2 separate regions of the Homo sapiens genome follow, and region 2 is linked to region 1. The links come from fine-mapping of genetic effects on gene expression. A gene starts in region 1. The other region holds a variant in brackets. All regions are shown on one strand. Distances are between the middles of the regions.

What was found.
Region 2: its variant is fine-mapped to the expression of SRP72 in whole blood (INTERVAL, PIP 0.94).

The regions. Positions count from the first base shown.
Region 1 is chr4:56,462,604-56,470,817 of GRCh38, forward strand. SRP72 (signal recognition particle 72) reads left to right here and starts at 5,014. Exons shown (of 19, transcript NM_006947.4): 1 at 5,014-5,141; 2 at 7,050-7,170. The coding sequence starts at 5,033. It overlaps PAICS (phosphoribosylaminoimidazole carboxylase and phosphoribosylaminoimidazolesuccinocarboxamide synthase), which reads left to right. Exons shown (of 9, transcript NM_001079524.2): 9 at 1-1,975. It overlaps LOC124900706 (a long non-coding RNA gene), which reads right to left and starts at 4,955. Exons shown (of 2, transcript XR_007058126.1): 1 at 4,489-4,955; 2 at 1-390. RefSeq lists an enhancer at 4,859-5,068.
Region 2 is chr4:56,335,146-56,351,457 of GRCh38, forward strand. It overlaps AASDH (aminoadipate-semialdehyde dehydrogenase), which reads right to left. Exons shown (of 15, transcript NM_181806.4): 10 at 16,197-16,312; 11 at 14,118-14,913; 12 at 9,982-10,145; 13 at 8,417-8,539; 14 at 7,690-7,821; 15 at 3,145-3,646. The coding sequence ends at 3,257. Among named protein-coding and RNA genes, the nearest start is that of AASDH, 44 kb to the right of the region's middle. The variant C/CA (reference allele first, on the strand shown) is at 6,965.

The DNA of each region.
Region 1 (8,214 bases):
GTCAATATATGTAAGGCCCATCATGGCACACAAATGTGTTATGTAATATCCATTTGGCAGACTGAAGAACAACAGTATGAATGGAATTCATTCACCATGAGAATTACCTGGAATTCTCTGGGCATGGTAGCTCATGCCTGTAATCCCAGCACTTTGGGTGGCCGAGGCAGGTGGATCACCTGAGATCAGGAGTTCGAGACCAGCCTGACCAACATGGAGAAACCCAGTCTCTAATAAAAATACAAAACTAGCCGGGCATGGTGGCACATTCCTGTAATCCCAGCGACTCAGGAGGCTGAGGCAGGAGAATCGCTTGAACCTGGGAAGCGGAGGTTGTGGTGAGCCGAGGTTGCGCCATTGTACTCCAGCCTGGGCAACAAGAGCAAAACTCTGTTTCAAAAAAAAAGAAAGAAAGAAAATTACCTGGAATTCAATATTGCCATCGGCTGATTTAATTTCTAATATGAAGAAAGGGGCAGTGTGATGTGCCACGGAGCATCCACAACCTGCCATTTCAGCCCAGCCAACCTTAGAAAGCCATTGAAAAGAGTTGTTTTTAATGGTGTTTTTACATCCAGCTTCCCACACCTCAAATACTTGGGGTGGAATTGTTAATCTCACATTGCAGTACAATGAAAATAGTGGAATGGAAATCAAGTTATAAAATGGAGCTAAATATTTCTTCTGCTTGCCTCTGAGTTGATAAGATACCATAAGATACTGTACATGAGGCTGGGCGCGGTGGCTCACGTCTTATTTCTTCTGCTTGCCTCTGAGTTGACAAGATACCATAAGATACTGTACATGAGGCTGGGTGCAGTGGCTCACGCCTGTAATCCCAGCACTTTGGGAGGGTGAGGTGGGCAGATCACCTGAGGTCGGGAGTTCAAGACCAGCCTGACTGACATGGAGAAACCCCCTCTTTACTAAAAATACAAAATTAGCCAGGCATGGTGGTGCATGCCTATAATTCCAACTACTCGGGAGGCTGAGGCAGGAGAATCGCTTGAACCTGGAAGGCAGAGGTTGTGGTGAGCTGAGATCGAACCATTGCACTCCAGCCTGGGCAACAAGAGCGAAAATCTGTCGCCAAAAAAAAAAAAAAAAAGATACTGTACATGGAAGCTTCTCAGGCTAAATCCATTAATATAAAAATACATTGTGGATACTGATGAGATGGCTAATTCTGTCAACTTGACTAGGCTACGGGATGCCTTGATAGCTGGTCAAACAACATTTCTAGGTACATCTGTGATGGTGTTTCTGGAAGAGACTAGCACTTGAATCAGTAGACTTGAGTAAAGAAGACTGCCTTCACCCATGTGGGTGAGCGTCATCTAATCCATTGAGGGCCTGAATAGAACAAAAAAGGGGAAGAAGGGTGAACTGCTGGGACATCCATTTCGTGCCCCCAGATGTTGGTGCTCCTGGTCCTCAGGCCTTCAGACTAGGACTTAACGTTATTGCCTCCCCTGATTCTCAAGCCCTCGGGTTTGGAACTACACTGGCTTTCCTGGGCCTTCAGCCTGCAGAAGGCAGACTGTGGGACTTCACCTCCATTTTGCAGAGCCAATTTCTCATAATCTGTACATATCCTATTGGTTCTGTATTTTTTAGAGAACAAATACAGCCTATTATGTATATATAAGACCCTGGGAATGCAAAGATGAACAAAATTAACCTTCTGCTCTCAATGAATCTTGGAAGTCTCCAGAGGCAGACAATTTCAAAACACCGTATATAGTCTTAATATGGAATTAACAATAGGGTATTGTGAATACACAAAAGTAGGAAGGACTCTGATCTCTAGAAAACAATTGTATACTGTGAATGAAAAAGACTAATTCTCCACAGTCTATACTCAATCTCTCTTACCTTTCCATAATTTTCTTCAGCAAACTTATTACCACCAAACATAGTACATGTTTATTTATTACCCATCTCTCCCAACTAGAAAATAAATGTATTACACTGGGCTGTCTTCTTTGTTGTCAGCTGTATCACAGCAACTGGTGTAATACACGGCACTGGCATATACAAGACAAACACTTGTCAGATGAATAAAAATGCAAATTCCAGGAGGTAGGGGGACACATAACTACATGGAAGTTAGAGGTGAATAGCATGCAAGGGGGCTAGGAAATAAGTATAGAGACCTATGTGAGTTGGGGAGGTGGCAAGCAGAGGCCAGATCACAAAAGCTCTTACTGCTCTTCTTTGGAGTTCGGATTTTATCGTGAGGGTAGGAAAGTGGCATCAGATACATGCTTTAAGAGATCAGTCTGGTTTTTTTCCCACCATGTGAAAACAGAAGATGCCATCTATGAATCAGAGTGGCCCCTCACCAGACAATCTTTCCATCCTTCACAATGTGAGATGTAAATTTGTTATTTAAAAAAAAAAAAACAAAACACCACTATGGTTTGGAAGATTCCTGTTTCAAAAATGGCAGGTTAAGCCCCATATTTATAGGCTGTTTGCCACAAAACTCCATTAAAATGACATAAGAAATAGAAACAAGTCCACAGCAGCAGAATTCTGAGCATTTCTAAAAGCTACAAAGTATATAGGATTAGAATGATATAGAAACGAAAATTGCCAATTCTTATATAAAGTCAATGTTCTAAAAAGTACTACTAGGACAGTGGCTCTTAACTTTTGGGAGGGGATGGTGGATATAAACACCTTTGGAGAATACAGTGGAATCTACATTTTCTCAGAATAACAAAATACAACAAAATTTTGGGTATACCCAATTTTCTCACACAACATTTTGGGTATACCATGTCATCTGGAGCCCCCACCCCCTGAAATCTAAACATAACTGGCTTGAAACCTGTGACAATTCTAGTCAGTAAAAGTCTAAAGCTCTTCTCATGATTTTTACTAATTCACAAGAATTACACCCTCCAGCACCTAGAGTTCAAGCCACCTTTCATGCTCTTTGCATTGTATATACTGGAAGGACCAGACAAAAATATGGCAGGGCACCATATGCCATATCAGGAGCTGGGCAGTTTCTGCCCTCAAGGAACTCAAGATTAGGCAAGGAATGTGAAACAAAAAATGCCAACTATGTGCCAGGCAGTATGCTAGATCCTAGGGATACTGCAGTGAGCAAGGTAAATATGGTTCCTTGGCCTCAGAACTATAGTCCATACAGAGTGAGATAACCCTTAATTATCAGTGCTCAGAAGTGGAGTCCTATAGGGAGTCTCCCAACCTTTTTGGCACCAGGGACCGGTTTCAGGGAAGACAATCTTTCCACAGGAGTTGGACAGCTGGTTTCAGTATGATTCAAGCTCATTACATTTCCCATTAGATTCTCTTAAGGAGTGAGCAACCTAGATCCTTCACATTCCCAGTTCACAATAGGGTTTGAGCTGTGAGAAGCTAATATCACAGCTGATCTGACAGGAGCTCAGGCGGTACTGCTCACTGGCCCACCGATCACCTACTGCTGTGCCGCCCGGTTCCTAACAGGCTGCAGACCAGTACAAGGGTTGGGGACCCCTGTTCTAAGAGGATGCAACCAGAAGGCTGCCCAGTCTGCAAGATCAAATGTTTCCTCAAAGTAACTTTCAACGTATAACCAGAAAGACTGAAAGACAAAAAGTAGTTAGCAAGGCCGGGCACGGTGGCTTACGCCTGTAATCCCTGTACTTTGGGAGGCTGAGAGAGGGCGGATCACTTGAGGTCAGGAGTTTGAGACCAGCTTGGCCAACACAGTGAAACCCCATCTCTACTAAAAATTCAAAAATTAACCGGGCGTGGTGGCTCATGCTACTTGGGAGGCTGAGGCAAAAGAATCGCTTTAACCCAGGAGGTGGAGATTGCAGTGAGGTTCATCCTGGGTCACAGAGCTAGACTACGTCTCAAAAAAAAAAAAAAAAAAAAAAAAAAAAAGCTAGGTTCCTGAGGGACACAGGAAGTAGTAGAAGTTGTAAAGGTCATGACGAGATATGAGTCTGAAGAGCAGGCCATTCAATGAAATACAACATTCACATCAAGTGAATCACTCACATCGTCTTGGTGTGGTGGCTCATGCCTGTAATCCCAGCACTTGGGGAGGCTGTGGTGGGAGGATTGCTTGAGCCCAGGAGTTCCAGACCAGCTTGGGCAACACGGCAAGATCCCCGTCTCAAAAAAAAAAAAAAATCACTCACATCAAGTGTACCCAACAGATATCCATTCCCTTCGTACATCTGAACACATCTTGATATTAACGGTCGCAAGCAAACCCTAATATTTTATATCTCTAGAACAAATATAGTATCCCCATTTCACAATCGGGAAAACAGACTCCCAGAAGCTAAGTAACTTGTTTATTGTCAGACATCTAGTGAGTCGCAGAGCCAGGGAACTGACCACGGGCATTTTCACCCCATTACCCTTCCAGCTTATTGCCGACTGCTCCCGAAGGGAGCGAAAAGGACAGGCAAAGGGTTTCACCAAACCCTTTGTAATGGGAGATTCTTGCCTTCTTACCTTTCCTCACGTTTGCTTCTCTGCCAGAATGTCTTCCCGCACTTTCCCCAGAACCCAAGTTCTCCTAATCATCTTTCAAGATCCCTTTCCCTCAACCACAGATGAGCCGTGCCTATTTCTCCTTCAAATGACTCCCTATGGCTTCTAGTTGGTAGTCTTTTATTTACCACCTCATAGTCCTTTTATTTATATCCCATAAATGATCGTCCGGCCCCGCACCGTGGGACCAGGACGCTGCCTCGACCATGGCGGTCTCCTGGAAACAGGCTGCTTTGAGCCGAAACTGGTGACCGTTTCCCAACCCCGTCCAGGAGTCCGACGCCTCTTTTCTCCAGGCCAACTTCAAGTGAGGTGTATCAACTCTATCCGCACAAATTTCTTGCCACGAGAGCAGAAGATTATGATCTCTGATGCTGCCTTAGGGCTGAAGACACTCCCAACTCGGCGACGCTTAGCAATCATCGACTTCCTCCTCCTCTTGGCTGCCTCGGAGATCCTGTTCCGGGGCAGAGGTCTCCCCGCCCCGCCCCTCGTCTCCTCCAAGATGGCGAGCGGCGGCAGCGGGGGGGTGTCAGTACCTGCGCTGTGGAGTGAAGTGAACCGGTATGGCCAGAACGGCGACTTCACGCGCGCTCTCAAGACCGTCAATAAGAGTAAGTGTCGGGGTGGGCACTGGGGCGGGCCCAGGCCGGCTGGAGGATGCGGCCTGTTTCCGGCGCGCGAGACCACCTCGCGCGGGAGGCACGGGAAGGGGAGACCCCCGAAACCCCCCCGTCTATTGTCCGCCCGGCTCGGGCCCTAGCGCCCGGAAGACGCAGGTCTCACTCCTCGGCTTCACCAGGCCAGCCTGGGGTCCCTGGTTGCTTACAGCCACGTGTACTTCTCTTTTTACCCTCCGCGGGAAGCGAGGGAAGGTTTTAAAGAGACCGCAGCTCCCGGAGTCCATTTCAAACTGTTTTCTTATTTGACTCCTTTGCTGCTTTATTTCACAAATATTCCAAAGTGCCTCCTTTTCTTCTTCGTCTTGAGCGCAGTGATCAGGACTCTATTGCTGAGGGAGCTTGTTCTCTTTGGCCGCTAAAGGGGGAGGAACCTGCTTGGGACACGTAGTTTAGAGGCTGGTGCTAACCAGGTGGAAGCTGTACGGGTTCTACGGGGCGAGAGGAAAGGGCTGGATCTGGATGTCAGGCCTGTCATTCCCATAGATGAGATCTCTTCAGTGTTATTAAGTTAGGAAATATGTGTGTGGAAGCACCAACACTTGAAATAATGTCGGAAGAAAAGTTTGGCCTGTTTTTTTGCCCTGTAAGGGATGATTTCGGTTTTTACCGCCTTTGGTGTGAGGTTTAATTCATCATATTCTTTTGTTCCTTACTACATACCTGGAATATGGCCATGCTGCTTAATGTTCTCGGTGGTGCGCAGTTCTTCTCTACTGAAGATACAGCCTGTGCATGTTAGATTTGGAAATGTAATTACCAAGGCAGGGCTTAGCTGTTCAGAGTAGCAGTAACCTAAAAGGTGTGTCAGTAACATGCAAAGCTATCTAAGTAATTTTCAACACTCTAGTACTGGGTTAACGTGAAAAGTAGTGATTGTGCCCACAGTGCACTTTTGGTGATTTCAGACATTGAGGAAAATAGCTACGAATTAGAATTATTTGATCCCTAAATTTGTTTGAATTAACTCTAGCCTTCCAACCAGTACTGTATACTTAGTATAGTATTTTGCAGGAATTCTTTAATCAGCAAAGATTGTCAACTTGTTTACCAGTATGTTTTCTTAATTGGTAGAAATTCTTGTGATTCTTTGAGAATTGGACTTCTGTAGTTGCACAGGAGCAAGAGTAACTATGATCCTGGTCATTTTAACACCGAACAGTTGTTAGCGTTGAAACTTGCCACCTGAGTTCTTCCTTATACTTTGGTCATCTTAGTTGAAAAGGGGAAATTTTAATGATTTTTGGAAACGTTGCCAGCAAGATAAATTGCCTTTGTATTATACTTTATAAGATTTTTCCAAAATATTCATTTCATATTGTCAGTAACCTTATTAAATAGGTAATGCTTTTCTAATCATTTTGTAGCTAAGAAAACTGAGATTTGGCTGTTAAGTGATATGCCCAATACCTCAAAGCATTTAGTGGCAAGCTTGCACCAAACCTAGGTCATTTGCTTCCAAATTCTACCTGAACTTTTTCCCTGTGAAGTAATGAACTATGTAGAATGTAGCATGCATTTCAAGATGAAATATCTGGAGAAATTGCTTCTTTCTTCTTTATTTCACTGCACTTTTTTGGTACATGTATATTGGGAATCTTTATCTCATTGAAAATTTAATCTATAACTCTCCTTATTGTCACTTCTTAAGTTAAAAGCAAAGATTAGTTGTTTTCTGGGTTTGTTTTGTTTTGTTGCTGTTTCTTCCAGTTGTTCTGACCAATTATTTCTGTTGCAATAAAAGTAGAAATTTAGCTTTCGGAGAGACAGGGTGGGAAAATTTAGTAAAAATGTGAAAAGGAAATGGATTTAAAAATGACTTTTCCTAAAATTGTTCTCTAGTACTACAGATCAACAAAGATGACGTAACTGCCCTGCATTGTAAAGTGGTATGCCTTATCCAGAATGGAAGTTTCAAGGAAGCTTTGAATGTCATCAATACTCACACCAAAGTGTTAGCCAAGTAAGTGATTCAGTTAGTTGCTTGTACAGTTATTAGAAACACTTACTATAGCTATAATCTCTTCCATGTTTTTTCCCAACTATTTGCTGATTTTTTTTAACGTTTTTTTCCTTCCTTTTTTTCCCCCCTTTTGCTTGTCAATAATGTTTCTGAACTGGAAGGAATACTAGTAACTTCTGTTTTTTTCAGCCTTAGAGAGTTTTTTTTTTTTTTTTTAACCACTGTGTTTCCTTTGAACCGCTAAGGAGGTGAACCATAGAGAGTTGTGGGGCATAATTATGAGTCGTTGGAGGATGTAGCAAGAATAACTCAGTCGAAGTTTCTTTACTGTTATACCTAGGCTCCAAAAAAATATGTATTGAAATTAAGTTTGAAGCATATTAATGGGATACTGGTTTATAAGGTGCAGAACAATATATATTATACTTCCTTTTACAAGAGGAGGAGGATATAAAAATTTATATATGCATTTGCCTGTATTTGCAAAACAAACAGTATAAAGAGAAACAATGAATAGTCATTTGTGGGAGGCCTAAGAGGGCGGATCACGAGGTCAGGGGTTTGAGACCAGACCGAGCAATATGGTGAAACCCCATGTCTACTGAAGATACAAAAAATTAGCTGGGTATGGTGGTGTGCACCTGTATTCCCAGTTACTTGGGAGGCTGAGGCAGGAGAATCACTTGAACCCAGGAGGCAGAGGCTGCAGTGAGCTGAGATCGTGCCATTGCACTCCAGCCTGGGTGACGGGGAGACTCCGTCTCAAAAAAAAAAAAAAGTCATTTGTAGGAGGTAATAGGAACAGGTTAGATTTGGGTAGCAGTGGGAATAAAGCCTCTTAGTGTATCTCTTTTTCTTTTTATATTTGAGGCGTATAAATGTGTTAGAGATTAAAAATTAATTGTAAACTTTATTAAAAATAAAAGGGAAATAGAGGCAATGCTGCTTTTCTCCTATTAAATATGTTTGCTAAAATTCAGTCTCTTGATTTTGGGCTATTTTGTGAGAAAAGAGACATTTTCAAAAACATTTTGTCAATGAGTC
Region 2 (16,312 bases), 120 kb before region 1:
GTGAGATGAGTTTCCTGGATATAGCACACTGGTGGGTCTTGACTCTTTATCCAATTTGCCAGTCTGTGTCTTTTAATTGGAGCATTTGGTCCATTTACATTTAAAGTTAATATTGTTATGTGTGAATTTGATCCTGTCATTATGATGTTAGCTGGTTATTTTGCTCATTAGTTGATGCAGTTTCTTCCTAGGCTTGATGGTCTTTACAATTTGGCATGATTTTGCAGTGGCTGGTACCGGTTGTTCCTTTCCATGTTGAGTGCTTCCTTCAGAAGCTCTTTTAGGGCAGACCTGGTGGTGACAGAATTTCTCAGCATTTGCTTGTCTGTAAAGTATTTTATTTCTCCTTCACTTATGAAGCTTAGTTTGGCTGGATATGAAATTCTGGGTTGAAAATTCTTTTCTTTAAGAATGTTGAATATTGGCCCCCACTCTCTCCTGGCTTGTAGAGTTTCTGCCGAGAGATCCGCTGTTAGTCTGATGGGCTTCCCTTTGTGGGTAACCCGACCATTCTCTCAGGCTGCCCTTAACATTTTTTCCTTCATTTCAACTTTGGTGAATCTGACAATTATGTGTCTTGGAGTTGTTCCTCTCGAGGAGTATCTTTGTGGTGTTCTCTGTATTTCCTGAATCTGAATGTTGGCCTACCTTGCTAGATTGGGGAAGTTCTCCTGGATAATATCCTGCAGAGTGTTTTCCAACTTGGTTCCATTCTCCCTGTCACTTTCAGGTACACCAATCAGACGTAGATTTTGTCTTTTCACATAGTCCCATATTTCTTGGAGGCTTTGTTCATTTCATTCTGTTTTCTCTAAACTTCCCTTCTCGCTTCATTTCATTCATTTCATCTTCCATGGCTGATACCCTTTCTTCCATTTGATTGCATCGGCTCCTGAGGCTTCTGCATTCTTCACGTAGTTCTCCAGCCTTGGCTTTCAGCTCCATCAGCTCCTTTAAGCACTTCTCTGTATTGGTTATTCTAGTTATACATTTGTCTAAATTTTTTTCAAAGTTTTTAACTTCTTTGCCTTTGGTTTGAATTTCCTCCTGTAGCTCGGAGTAGTTTGATCGTCTGAAGCCTTCTCTCAACTCGTCAAAGTCATTCTCCGTCCAGCTTTGTTCTGTTGCTGGTGAGGAACTGTGTTCCTTTGGAGGAGGAGAGGCGCTCTGCTTTTTAGAGTTTCCAGTTTTTCTGCTCTGTTTTTTCCCCATCTTTGTGGTTTTATCTACTTTTGGTCTTTGATGATGGTGATGTACAGATGAGTTTTTGGTGTGGATGTCCTTTCTGTTTGTTAGTTTTCCTTCTAACAGATAGGGCCCTCAGCTGCAGGTCTGTTGGAGTTTGCTAGAGGTCCACTCCAGACCGTTTGTCTGGGTATCAGCAGCAGTGGCTGCAGAACAGCGGATTTTCGTGAACCACGAATGCTGCTGTCTGATCGTTCCTCTGGAAGTTTTGTCTCAGAGGAGTACCTGGCCGTGTGAGGTGTCAGTCTGCCCCTAATGGGGGGTGCCTCCCAGTTAGGCTGCTCGGGGGTCAGGGATCAGGGACCCACTTGAGGCAGTCTGCCTGTTCTCAGATCATCTCTAGCTGCATGCTGGGAGAACCACTGCTCTCTTCCAAGCTGTCAGGGACATTTAAGTCTGCAGAGGTTACTGCTGTCTTTTTGTTTGTCTGTGCCCTGCCCCCAGAGGTGGCGCCTACAGAGGCAGGCAGGCAGGCCTCCTTGAGCTGTGGTGGGCTCCACCCAGTTCAAGCTTCCCGGCTGCTTTGTTTACCTAAGCAAGCCTGGGCAATGGCAGGTGCCCCTCCCCCAGCCTCACTGCCGCCTTGCAGTTTGATTTCAAACTGCTGTGCTAGCAATCAGCGAGACTCCGTGGGCGTAGTACCCTCCGAGGCAGGTGTGGGATATAATCTCCTGGTGCGCCGTTTTTTTTAAGCCCGTTGCAAAAGCGCAGTATTAGTGTGGAAGTGACCCGATTTTCCAGGTGCCGTCTGTCACCCCTTTCTTTGACTAGGAAAGGGAACTCCCTGAACCCTTGCGCTTCCCGAGTGAGGCAATGCCTCACCCTCTTCGGCTCACGCAGTGTGCTGCACCCACTGTCCTGCGCCCACTCTCTGGCACTCCCTAGTGAGATGAACCCGGTACCTCAGATGGAAATGCAGAAATCACCTGTCTTCTGCGTCACTCACGCTGGGAGCTGTAGACCGGAGCTGTTCCTATTCGGCCATCTTGGCTGCCCGCAAAAGATCAAAATTTTAAGGAAAGGGCATTGCTAGGAACAATGAATGCCTGAAATCACCATGTATAACCATGAAATTGTACTATGTGGGGGGTGTGATATATGTGTGTTTATTTTATTCTACATTAGTACTTCATTTAAAAATAACTAAGGAACATAATTCAATAACTAGATCCTGCCTTAGAAAACCTTTTGCCATGAATGACAAATTCATGTAATAAAGACTGTTTTTAACCCACCAAGTAAGTATATTCTGTTTCTCCCCCCGGCCCCCCAGCTGGGATCTTGCTTTTTTAAAGAAAAAAACATAAAATTAGCCTAATGTATTAGGGTTCTCCATAGAAACCTAGCGATTAGGAGAGATGATGTATTATGAAAATTGGCTTAAGTGATTATGATGGAGGCTGAGAAGTACCACCATCTGCCATTTGCACGCTGGAGACCCAGGAGAGTGGTCTAAAGGCTTCAGAACCAGGAGCCCTGATGTCCAAGGGCAGGAGCAGATGGATACATCTCAGCAAGAAGACAGCATTTGCCCCTCCTCTACCTTTTCATTCTATTCAGGCCCTCATCAGATTGAACGATGCCACCCACATTGGCACACTGGTGAGGGAGGACCTTCTTTACTCAGTCTACTGATTCAAATTCAAATGCTAATCATCTTTTCCAGAAACAGCCTCACAGACAAACCCAGAAATAATGTTTTACCAGCTATCAATCATCTGAGCATCCCTTAGCCAGTCAAGCTGACATATAAATAAAGTTAACCATCACACCTAATTAAACAAAAGTGCTACTAATTATATTGATGTGTTTTGTTCTCTAACTCCTTGTAAAAGCTTCTGTCGTTCCTATGGGAAGTAAAATATAGTTGTTCTCTAATCAAGTGTAGACAAGTTTCCGTTTCTTAGCCAAAATATAATCTTCTTTAATATAAAATAAGTCCACATGATGTATAATGGTAAAATATTTTCAAATATCTCACATTTGTTATACAAATAAGGACTGTATTTGATTATTTTTGATTGCCACCCAATAAATCCAGACAATAAACATAATTATCTCTACACCCAATAATGAGCATTGATTCCAGGACCACAGGAGAAGAGAAGACTTCTCCAGGAAGTTCATAAACACTTTGCAATTGTCCACTCTGAGATTCCAAGATCCACACTTTCCCATCAGTAGATGCTGCTGCCAGCAACATTTCATTGCTGCCATTGTAGTTATGGAAAGCAAACGGTGTTGCATAGACCCTTGAAGTAGTTTCAAATTTCCACTGCAGGTGACCTTTCATGTTACAACAGTAGATAAAGCAATCATGGGAACCAAAAAATATTTTTTGCTCTGATGGTGAGGTACACGGGGATGAAAAGATTGGTCCACTGGTAGAGAACTGCCAAACCTATAACAAGTAATAAAAATAAATATAATTCATTCATCTAATTGCTCCAATTCTCCCTTAAAGCTCTATGAGGTTCTTAATGCAAATCTAAGAGATATAGGCTATTTGAATGGTAACTATACACAGACAAAATGGCTTTTTCTGAAAAGTAGCACTATCATACTAGACCTCTGTCCCAGTGGTAAAATGTAAAATCTAAGACAAAATATACTGGAGTGTTGTTACTATGTGATTCACTGCCGTGCATAATAAGTAAAATTAATTTTGAACTCCATTCAAGAGTTAGTATTATTCAGAGACACTGAGTTCAAAGGTAAAACTACATTGAGTTTTCAATATTATCTTTTTTTAATTTTTATTTATTATTATTATTTTTTTTTGAGATGGAGTCTTGCTCTGTCGCCCAGGCTGGAGTGCAGTGGCATGATCTCAGCTCACTGCATCCTCTGCTTGCCAGGTTGAAGCGCTTCTCCCGCCTCAGCCTCCCGAGTAGCTAGGCGCGTGCCACCACACCCAGGTAATTTTTTGTATTTTTAGTAGAGATGAGGTTTCACCATGTTAGCCAGGATGGTCTCGATCTCCTGACCTCGTGATCCGCCCACCTCGGCCTCCCAAAGTGCAGAGATTACAGGTGTGAGCCACCACATCCAGCCTTCAGTGTATCTTATTAAAAACTGGGCCAGGCGTGGTGTTTCATGCCTATAATCCCAGCATTTTGGGAGGCCAAGGCAGGCAGATCACCTGCAGTCAGGAGTTCAAGACCAGCTTGGCCAACATGGTGAAACCCCATCTCTATTAAAAATACAAAAATTAGCCAGGTGTGGTGGCACACACCTACAGTCCCAGCTACTGGGGAGGCTGAGGTGGGAGAACCACTTGAACCTGGGAGGCAGAGGTTGCAGTGAGCCAAGATCACACTACTGCACTCCACCCTGGGCGATAGTGAGACCTTGTTTCAAAAAAAAAAAAAAAAATTGAGACCAGTTTTCAATATATCTTCTTACAAACTATGTATCTTCTTTTCCAAATGTAGGAAAAAAGTTAATTGTGCTGAAAGGAAGAGTTTATGGGCAATGATAAACAGTTATAAGTTGTGGCCAGGCATGGTGGCTCACACCTGTAATCCCAACACTTTGGGAGGCCAAGGCAGGTGGATCACCTGAGGTCAGGAGTTCGAGACCAGCCTGGCCAACATGGTGAAACCCCATCTCTACTAAAAATACAAAAATTAGCTGGGTGTGGTGGTACACACCTGTAATCCTAGCTATTCAGGAGGCTGAGGCAGGAGAATGGCTTGAACCCGGGAGGCAGAGGTTTCAGTGAGCCAAAATTGTGCCAGTGCACTCCAGCCTGGGCAACAGAACAAGATTCCATCTCAAAAAATAAAATTAAAGAAAATAAAATTCATATGGAACCAAAAAAGACCCAGAATAGCCAAAGCAATATTGGGTAAAAAGAACAAAGCTGGAGGCATCACAGTAACTGACTTCAAAATAAGGCTAATTTAGCCAAAATGGCACTGTATTGGTATAAAAATAGATCAATGTAATAGAATGGAGAACCTAGAAATAAATCCACGTAGTTACAGCCAATGGAGTTTTGAGAAAGATGTCAAAAATACACAATGGGGAATGGACACCCCTCTTCAATGAATGGTGCTGGGAAAATTGGAGCTCTCTCTACATGCAGAAGAATAAACCAGACCCCTCTCTCTCACTGCATATAAAAATAAACTCGAGATGGATTAAAGACTTAAATTTAAGACCTAAAACTAGTTAAAACTACTAGAAGAAAACATAAGGGAATCACTTCAGGACACTGGTCTAAGCAAAGCTTTTATAGCTAAGGCCTAAAAAGTATAGGCAACAAAAACAAAAATAGTTAAGTGGGACTATATTAAGCTAAAAAGCTTCTGCACAGCAAAGGAAACAACAGAGTGAAGAGACAGCCTGTTGAATGGGAGAAAATACTTGCAAACTATTCATCCAACAAGGGACTAATATATAGAATATGAGGAACTCAAACAACACAACAGTAAACAAATCCTATTAAAAAGTGGGCAAGGGAGATGAATAGACATATCTCAAAAGAAGACATACAAATGGCTAACAGGTATATGAAAAAAACACTCAACATCACTAATGATCAGGGAAATGCAAATCAAAACCACAATGAGATATCATCTTACCAAGTTAAAATGGCTATTACTAAAAGAACATAACAAATGCTGGCAAGGATGTGGAGAAAAAGGAACTTACACTGCTGGTGGGAATGTAAATTAGGGTAGTCATTGTGGAAAACAGTATGGAGATTTCTCAAAAAACTAAGAAGAGAACTATCATATCCAACAGTCCTACTACTATTTACCCAAAGACAAAAAATCAGTATATCAAAGAGACAACCTGCACTCCCATCTCCCATGTTTACTGCAGCACAATTCACAAGAGCAAAGATATGGAATGCACTTAAGTGTCCACCAATGGATGAGTGGATAAAGAAAATGTAGTATATATAGATGCAGTGAAATACTATCAGGCCATAAAAACCAAGGAAATCATGTCATTTGCAGCAACATGGATGGAACTGGAGACTTTTATCTTTTTTTTTTTTTTTTTTTTTGGAGACAGAGTCTCGCTCTGTCACCAGGCTGGAGTGCAGTGGCACAATCTTGGCTCACTGCAACCTCCACCTCCCGGGTTCCAGCGATTCCCCTGCCTCAGCCTCCCAAGTAGCTGGGACTACAGGCATGTGCCACCACACCCAGCTAATTTTTTTTTTTTTTTTGTATTTTAGTAGAGACGGGGTTTCACCATGTTGGCCAGGATGGTCTCGATCTCCTGACTCTGTGATCCTCCCACCTCGGCCTCCCAAAGTGCTGGGATTACAGGCGTGAGCCATGATGCCCAGCCATTGGAGATTTTTATCTTAAGTGAAATTAAGCCAGGCCCAAAAAGACAAATATTGCATGTTCTCACTCATATGTGAGAGCTAAAAAAGTTGATCTCAGGGAGGAAGAAAATGGAATATTAGAAGTTGGGGGCCGGGCGTGGTGGCTCATGCCTGTAATCTCAATACTTTGGGAGGCTGAGGCAGGTGGATCACTTGAGGTCAGGAGTTCGAGACTAGCCTGGGCAACATGGTGAAACCCCGTCTCTACTAAAAATACAAAAATTAGCCAGGCATGGCAGCATGCGCCTGTAGTCCCAGCTACTCGGGAGGCTGAAGCAGGAGAATTGCTTGAACCCGTGAGGCGGAGGTTGCAGTGAGCCAAGATCACACCAATGTACTCCAGCCTGGTAACAGAGCAAGATTCTGTCT[C/CA]AAAAAAAAAAAAAAAAAAAAAAAAGAAGTTGGGGTGGGTTGGCTAATAAAAAAATAAAAACAGGTTAGTTAATAGGTAAAAACATATAGTAAGAAAAAATAAGTTATAATGTTCAGTAGCAGAGTAGGATGACTACAGCCAACAACAATATGTTGTATATTTCAGAACAGCTAAAAGAGAAGACATGAAATGATCCCAACACATAGAAATAATAAGTACTCAAGGTGATGGACACCACAAACACCCTGACTTAATCATTACACAGTCTATGATTGTAACAAAATATCACATACATACCCCATAAATAGGTACAAATGTCTGTATCAATTAAAAGAATCCAGGGGTTTTATTTAAACTTTCATAATCTCAATAGAAGTTATAATAAAACAGGCTAAAAACTGGTAATATTTTAAAAATTGGGGGAGATGACAAAAGAAGTGTAACAATGTTTGGGTAGAAATCTTTTAAATCTACTATGTCTTCTTTAAAAAATTAAGAAATCCATGGCTTCACAATTAAAATAGAACTACTTCTCAACACCGTGAGTTGAATAATGATGTTTAAAATGTTACTTCAGTTGTCACCATCTGCTTTGCCTTTAAGAAAAGTAAATTTAAAAAATATAAATAGAACTATAGATATATAAAATTTCTAGTTCTATTTTTTATATATACATTTATATATATATAAAAATGTATATATAAAAAATTTCTAGTTCTATTACCTGTTCTCCAAAGTGAGTAAAGCAGAGTAAATTCCCATCTACACAGCCAATACAAATATACTGTGAGCAACATTGTGGGGAAGAGAAGAGTGGTTTTCCACAGGAATGTTTCCAAATAACGTTCCCAGTAGCCTGTCACAGGAAAAAGCAATTCACAGCATTTTATGTCATCCTACTAATCAGTTACCCTTTAAAAAACAAACTCATACATCTCCTAGGGTTAGAACTAAAATAGCAGAAAATGCTGTAGTGGTATGCAGACATAAATGAAGCTGGTATACATATATAAAATTAATCAGTGCTATTTATGAGAACTAGGAAAAAGGCTTGCAATAAAAGCAGCAAAGAAAAAACTAGCACCTAAGAGTTATCCCTGTGATGGACATAAAGTTCTTAATATGATGAAAAAAATTTTGTCAATTTGAACCTGGGAGGCAGAGGTTGCAGTAAGCTGAGATTGCGCCACTGCACTCCAGCCTGGGTGACAGAGGGAGACTCTGTCAAAAAACAAACAAACAAACAAAAAAATACATATATATATATATACAGGAATTTAAATTTTCTTATCTTTCTAGATCTCATGTCAATCATTTTTAATGAATTCCAGTTTGGTGTATGTGGACTACTACAATTAACTGAAAACTACTCAAACTTTCAAAGCTCAAAGCAAAAATTTTACAAATTTAAAGAAAAGTAATAAAATCAATATGTATTATTTTATGCCTACAGGATTTACAGCCAGTAAAAGTCCTCCCAATGTAGCAAAATACAAATGATGTGGAATCAGGTTCAAACACGGAGAGGAAAAGACAGTTCCTCCACATTTTGACTTCCAAACACACTTCTTTCTCTGCAAATAAGAAAACAAATTAATTTGTTCTTGTTGATGGTTAACAAATCCATATAACCTACCCTTCATGATATTATGTCTGTTTAGTTAATATAAGTTTTTATCTTTAGTATAAAGTACATGCCTACTGTGGAGAATCAGATTAGTATAAAGACAAAGGACACTACCCAGAGACAACCAGTGTTAACATTTTAGCATTTTCTCATTTGATCTTTTTGGGGTATGGGTGTGTGTGTCTGGGCGCACACATCTGAGAATATGTGTATATACACACACACGATCTAATATAGCTGAGATCATTCTGAATATATAACTTGGTATCATATTTTGCTCACTGATTTTGTAAAATGATTTAAATATAATTTTAATCCATAATATCCCATATGAACATAAATAATTTCTCTCTCTACCTTATCATTGAACGTTTTTTGGAATTTCTAGGTATTATAAACAACTTAGAAATAGGCATCTTAATGCATATATTTGACTATGTTTCTGATTATTTTTGCCAGGATTTCTAAAAAACGAATTTTATTGGATCAAGGATATGATATTGTTACCTATGGTCAAATCGTTTTCATTAGAGGCCTCACTAGTTACAACCTCTTACCACTCTCATCAGCATTTAATGTTATGATGAATATGTCTTCTAATCTAACACCATTTGTTTATCTCAAGAGTTTTTAATTTTCATTCCTTTGATTATTAAATTCATGAACTATTTATATACATTTACTAGCCGTCTCTTCTTTGGGGTCCTGTGTATTTATGTCCCTTGTTTATTTTTCTATCTGCTCTACATTTGTCTTATTAATTTGTATTTGATCTTTATTTTCATTAATACTTATAAATATAAATGAATTTCCACTTTTTTTACATTTATTTCAAAAATTTTCCCAGCTTAATTTCATAATTCTTACATAACATTTTAATTTTTATGTAATCAGGTCTTAAAACATCTTATTGATATCTTCGTCATTTTTTTCTACTGTCAAGATGATAATCCTAAATTCTTTAATTCCAAAACTCTGAGTAGCACACTTATTTGTGGTAAATTTGGTAATGAAGTTAAAAAGGTCTTAAGATATTAAGACTTAATTAATGCTTTATTCTTCCCAGACCACACAAGCTTGGGAAATAGTTAATACCTGTTCCAAGGCTCAACTACACCTGACAGTTACTCACTCTTCTTCTAAGTATTGAAATTTAATGCTTCTATGCTTATGGTATTAGACTAATGAGGTGAATTTTCTTTCTTTTTTTTTTTTTTTTTTTGAGATAGAGTCTCACTCTGTCACCCAGGGTGGAATACACTGTCACAATCTTGGCTCACTGCAACCTCCACCTCCCAGGTTCACGCAATCCTCCCACCTCAGCCTCTGGAGTAACTACCATTACAGGCATGCGCCACCATGCCCAGCTAATTTGAGGTCAATCCTTACATAAATATCTAAAGCATATGCGTGCTGGTCATGAGATCCAATGTAAATGAGTCCTGTGGTTGGATCCATGGTTGCCGAGCTTTTGACAGCATCTTCAGTAGTAAACATCCAGTATTTTTCTCCACTATTACTTTTCAGAACATAAACTAATCCATTATAACAGCCTACCAAGAAACAAAGCACAAAAGATTTGATATAGATATATTACTGGAAAATAATTCTTTAGCCTACAGCATGCAATTTATATTCAGTCCTCCTCTTATACATAGGCTCTATGATAAGCTCATCTGGCTTACATTTTAGCAATGTAAAGCAGAAACTGAATTAGTAATCACTTATGTAAAATATCTATTTAGTAGGTGTATCTTATCTTTTAAAAGTACTTCACTAATTTTTTTACATACTTATTTTTAAGAAGCGCTTCACTACTGAAAAAATAATAAAGTACACTGTGGTGGAGAGAGATTTTTGACACATCTGGATTCAGATTTCATCACGACTGTCACTGGGCATTTAAATCACCCAGTGTTGCTAAGCCCCAAATTATTCATCTGCAGAATGTGGAGTCATCTACTTCCAGGGTTATTGCAACAATTCAGATAATGTGAACAAATGCCCAGTGCATAGAAGGTGTTTAAGAAGTGCTAACGTTAATAGTCAATGTTCATTGAGCATTTACTATGTGTCAGGCGTTATTCTAAGTATGTTACATCTATTAATTCATTTAATCCCCACAGTGAAGTAAGTACTATTATAACCACATTTTATAGATAACAAAATTGAAGCACAGAGAGACTAAATTACTGGGGAAAAATTACACAGCTCATATGTGGCAAACCAAGATTTGAATCTAAGAAGTCAATCTCCAGAGCCTATGCTCTTAACAACTAAACTGCTTTTCCCAAATTGCTGCTATGGATGAGAAGACAGGGCAGGAGTCCTTGACCTTGGTGTAGCCAAAATAACCTAACTGGAAGTAGAGATGGTTCAAATGTACAAAGTGAAGGTCACTCAAATTCCCTGGAGATCATGAAAATCAGGAGAAGTAGAATTTGGGGACAGCTATTTAGGGCAATTTCATTGATGCCCACTCTCTAGACAGCTCTGCCTATGGCCGCTGCCACTCATTTGAGGCCCAATTCCCAATGTACTTTTTATGCTTTTTTTTCCCCTGGCAGTTATTATTTAGTAGCAAGAGAGTAGTGGCCAGCTCAGAGATGACAAAGAGAAATGTCCTACATAGTAGAGCACCCCAGAACTCACCTGGGTAAAGATTTCTGTCAATTCAGTTTAATTCCAAAAGACAATACAAAAGAAAATCTTTTTGACCTTGGGTTAGGCAAAGATTGCTAAGATGACACCAAAAGCATGACCCATTAAAAAAATTAAATTGGACTTCATCAAAATAAAGGACTCCTCTTCAAAAGACACTATGTCACTACGCTAAAAGAATAAAACACAAGCCCCAGACTGAGAGAAAACATGCAAAACATATATCTGATAAATGATTTATATTCAGAATACATAAAACAATTCTTAAAACTCAATTTAAAAAACTTAAAAATGGGAAAAAGATTTCAATAGACACTTCACAAAAGATACACAGAGAGCAAATGAGGTTTTGAAAAGGTGCTCGTCAGACATGGTGGCTCACGTCTGTAATCCCAGCACTTTGGGAGGCTGAGGTGGGCAGATCGCTTGAGCCCAGGAGTTTGAGACCAGCGTGGACAACACACAGAAGCTCTGTCTCTACAAAAATTACAAACATTAGCCAGGTGTGGTGGTGTATCTGTAGTCCCAGCTACTCCAGAAGCTGAGGTGGGAGCATCACCTGAGCCCAGGAGTTCGAGGGTGTAGTAAGCCATGATGACGCCACTGCACTCCAGCCTGGGTGACAGAGCAAGACGCTGTCTTAAAAAAAAAAAAAAAGATGCTCAACATCACTGGTCACTAGGGAAAGGCAAATTAAAACCACAATAAAATTCCACTCATGATTATTTCAACGGCTATAACAAAAAAAAAGTTAAAGCTGACAATACCAAGTACTAGCAAAAATGTGGTGCAACTGGACTTTTCACACATTGATGGTGGAAATGCAAAACACTTTATCACTTTGGGAAACAATTCAGCAGTTTCTTATCATTCAGGTGTATTACTGAAAGTGTTCTGTAGTATAATTTTCAAAATGCCGTTGTTTAAAGGGGAAGAAGGGAAGAATCACATTCAGATTCAAGTAGATTGCTGCTAGGATAGCACAAGTAGGGAAAGCTATTCCTAAGCCTTTAGTTTGAAAAGCTTTGATGAAGATTCCATGAGCGTATAAAATGAAACCTAACATACTTGGGAGAGTAAAAAGAGAGTTGTAGTCAGGGGGAGATATTATACCCAGGACCCCCATATTCCTAATAGAGTAAAAGTCACCTATACCTTAATGAAACTAAGCAGCAGTTAGTAGCTAACCCTTAATGAGCACTTATGAAAAAATGCTCACCAGGCCAGACATGGTGGCTCACGCCTGTAATCTCAGCACTTTGGGAGGCTGAGGTGGGCAGATCGCTTGAGCCCGGGAGTTTGAGACCAGCCTGGACAACACGCAGAAGCTCTGTCTCTACAAAAATTACAAACATTAGCCAGGTGTGGTGGCACGTCCCTAGCAATGCACCAATTGATTCATAAACAGTTATCTCATTTAATCCTCCCAAAAGCTTGATAAAAGATTCTAGTGTTTTAAAATATGTCCAGGAGGCCGGGTGCAGTGGCTCACACCTGTAATCCCAGCACTTTGGGACACCGAGGCAGGTGGATCACAAGGTCAGGAGTTCAATACCAGCCTGACCAACATGGTGAAACCCCATCTCTACAAAAAATACAAAAATTAGCTGGGTGTGGTGGTATGTGCCTGTAATACCAGCTACTCAGGGGGCTGAGGCAGGAGAATCACTTGAACCCGGGAGGTGGAGGTTGTAGTGAACCAAGATCGCGCCACTGCACTCCAGCCTGGGAAACAGAGCCAGACTCCATCTCAAAAAAAAGAAAAAAAAAAAAAGTACATGAATTCTTTGATGTACTTCCTTTCAAGAGGTGGAGCCTAATTCTCTTCCCCTTGAATGTGGCCTGAACTGAGTTATGCACTTTTTTTTTTTTTGAGACAGAGTCCTGCTCTGCTTGCTCAGACCAGAGTACAGTGGCACAATCACCACTCACAGCAGCCTCAACCTACTGGGCTCTAGTGATCCTCCCATCTCAGCCATCCAAGTAGCTGGGACTACAGGCATGTACTACCATGCCTAGCTAATGTTTGTATTTTTTGTAGTGACAGAGTTTCTGCATGTTACCCAGGCTGGTCTCGAACTCCTGGGCACAAGCGATCTGTCCACCTTGGCCTCTCAAAGTGCTGATATTACAGCTGTGAGCCACCGCGCCTGGCTGAGTTATGCCCTTCTAATTAACAGAAGAAAACAAAAAATGATGGTATGGAACTTGGAACGCTAGGTCATAAAAGGTACTCTGTTCCTCTTTACTTGCTGTCTCCTGGATCACTCTGAGGAATGTTAGCTGCCATGTTGTAAGGGCAGTCAAGCAGCCTAGAGAGAGGCGTATGTGGCAAGAATTGAAGCTTCCTGCCAGAATCAGCAAAGAACTGAGGCTTTCTGCTAATAGTGATGTAAATGAGCTACCTTGGCAGATTTTCCAACCCAAGTCAAGCTTTCAGATGGCTATAGCCACGTGAAAGCCCTGAGCCAGAACTGCCAGCTAAGCTGCTCCTGAATTGCTGACCCATAGAAACTATGAGACAATAAATTTGTGTTGTTCTAGGTTGTTGAGTTTTGGGGTATTTGTGATACAGCAACACATTTTATTATTATTCCCATTTTACCCACAAGGAAAGTGAAATTCTAAGAGGTTCAGTAACTTGCCAAAGGTCACAGAGTTCATAATAGCTATACAGGTAGGTTCAAATCCAGGGACTCTTGACCCCAAGGCCCACAATATTAATCAGCACAGGGTTAACTATAATTTTTGGACAGCAACCAAACCCATCATATTTAGATTTTTAAAAAATTTAACTTGGGCCTATGAAGATTATTGTATGGTAATTCAATTTAACTCCACAAACCTCAAATTCAAAAACTTACCCACCACAATAAAGTTTCCACACTTAGATACACATGCTGAGGATTCAATTCGATCTCCCAAAATCTGTTCCCATTTTACCTTCCCAGAGTAAAAGTCAACTGCCTTCATTCTATGAGAATGGGAACCAATGTACACAGTTGTAGATGACTTATCAAAAGTGGGTATTACAACCAGCGGTGAAGCATCTACACATTTGCCTGTGTCTGACCTCCACCTCACATGTAACTCCATTTTCTGAGTCCCTATCGCAGGTTTCCCCTCTTCAGAAACTTTTGCAACACAGGATGGATCTTTTGACTTCCCAATAAGAACTGGAGAATTTAAGCCTTTCAAATTTTGAATGTTGGTCTGTGAAACTGAGTCAGAAGGACAGGCTGAAGAGCAATGTCCTAACTTTGTTAAAAACCTAGTGGAATTCAGAGACAAAATTTGACTCCCTCTGCTCAGTACAACAAAAGCATTAATCTCATTGTGGCAAGTGAAAGTCATGATGGCTTTCTGATGTAAAGATGTTCCACTGGCTTCCTCTTGATTAATGTCGCTGAGTTTCCTTTTTGTGGCACAACTCTTCCTGAATGTCACATCTTCATCTGGAACCACTGTTTGAAGGATGTGATTATAAATCTCTAAAATGGAACTGCTGAGAATAATTTCCAGAAGCCCAGGTACTGATGTACCAACAAGTTTTTCAATCTCACTGAGGAGCCGGATGGACTTTAAGGAATCTCCACCACTATTTAAGAAGAGTGACTCATCAGGAACCCTCAAAAGATCTTCTGGGAGATTCAGAGTAGACTACAGATGAGAGAATAGAGAAATATGTGACGTAAAGGTCTAAAAGCAAAAGACTTCAACATTTACAGGTAATATATAGAGATGAGAGTACCTACATTAATAATTAGAAATATAGGTCGGGTACAGTGGCTCACGCCTGTAATCCCAGTACTCTGGGAGGCCAAGGCGGGCAGATCACATGAGGTCAGGAGTTCGAGACCATCCTGGCCAACACAGTGAAACCCCACCTCCACTAAAACCACGAAAATTAGCTGGGTGCGGTGGTAGCCACCTGTAATCTCAGCTACTCGGAGGCTGAGGCAAGAGAATCGCTTGAACCCAGGGGGTGGAGGTTGCAGTGAGCCAAGATTGCGCCACTGCACTCCCGCCTGGGCAACAGAGTGAATCTCCATCTCAAAAATAATAATAATAATAACAATTAGAAATATAAAATAAATACTTTTAATAATAAAAATAAAGTTTTAAATTATTTTATTTATGTTAAAGGAGATCACTGTACTACCAATTTTGTCACAAATTCACTCTAAAAGTACAAAATATACTTCCCTTTAGAGCAGTTTTCTTACCCATAAAATTGGGACAAAAACATCTGATTTATTAATTATAAAGCCCACAAGATACCAATAGCCAATATTTCTATAATATGGGAATAATTTGTCTTTGGCTGCTTCATATAAAGCAAAATTACTTTCCAAGAATCTAAAAATGAAGTAGAAGAGACTTTTATCTTAGATACCCTCTATTTTTAGACAAGGCTACACAATTACATCCTCTTTTCAGAACCCTTTAAAAAAGAAAAATCTACATTTTATTTAAGAAAAATTATTAACTTACTGAGATATATTTTTAAACAAACTCTCTCAAGTAGAAATAAATATTGTTACTGAAAGTTCTTTTAGAATAATGATGTAAGCCCTAAGTATAACAGACAACGCACTGTGCTATAGCAAGATTTGGCTATTTTCTCAGCTCTGACAAGAGTGTTACTACATTCCACCGATCCTCTTAGAGAAAAGTTATGTCAAAACAGGCTTTGTCTACTTGTGCCTTTTATGACTACTTCACTTTCAATAAATTTCTTTGTCGGAAACTTAATCTAGTCTTATAGTAGAGAATCTAACCTTCATTTTAATACAAATTGGATAAATGAAGATATACTACCTAACATCTGGGTAGCAATAACATTCTCAGAAAATTTTATCCAACTTGTTAGGATAATAGCAGTCCCTAAAGATATAAAACGACCTCTTTATAATAATAATTTTATAACTTAAAAATTGTACCTTCCACAAATACTGTAATTTTTCCCAAAGGTCCTCTTTCCCACTGAGCTTATTCTCAGACTTCAAGTTTATGTAGTTTAAATATATCTTGTTTAACTCAGAAACATCAATTTTGC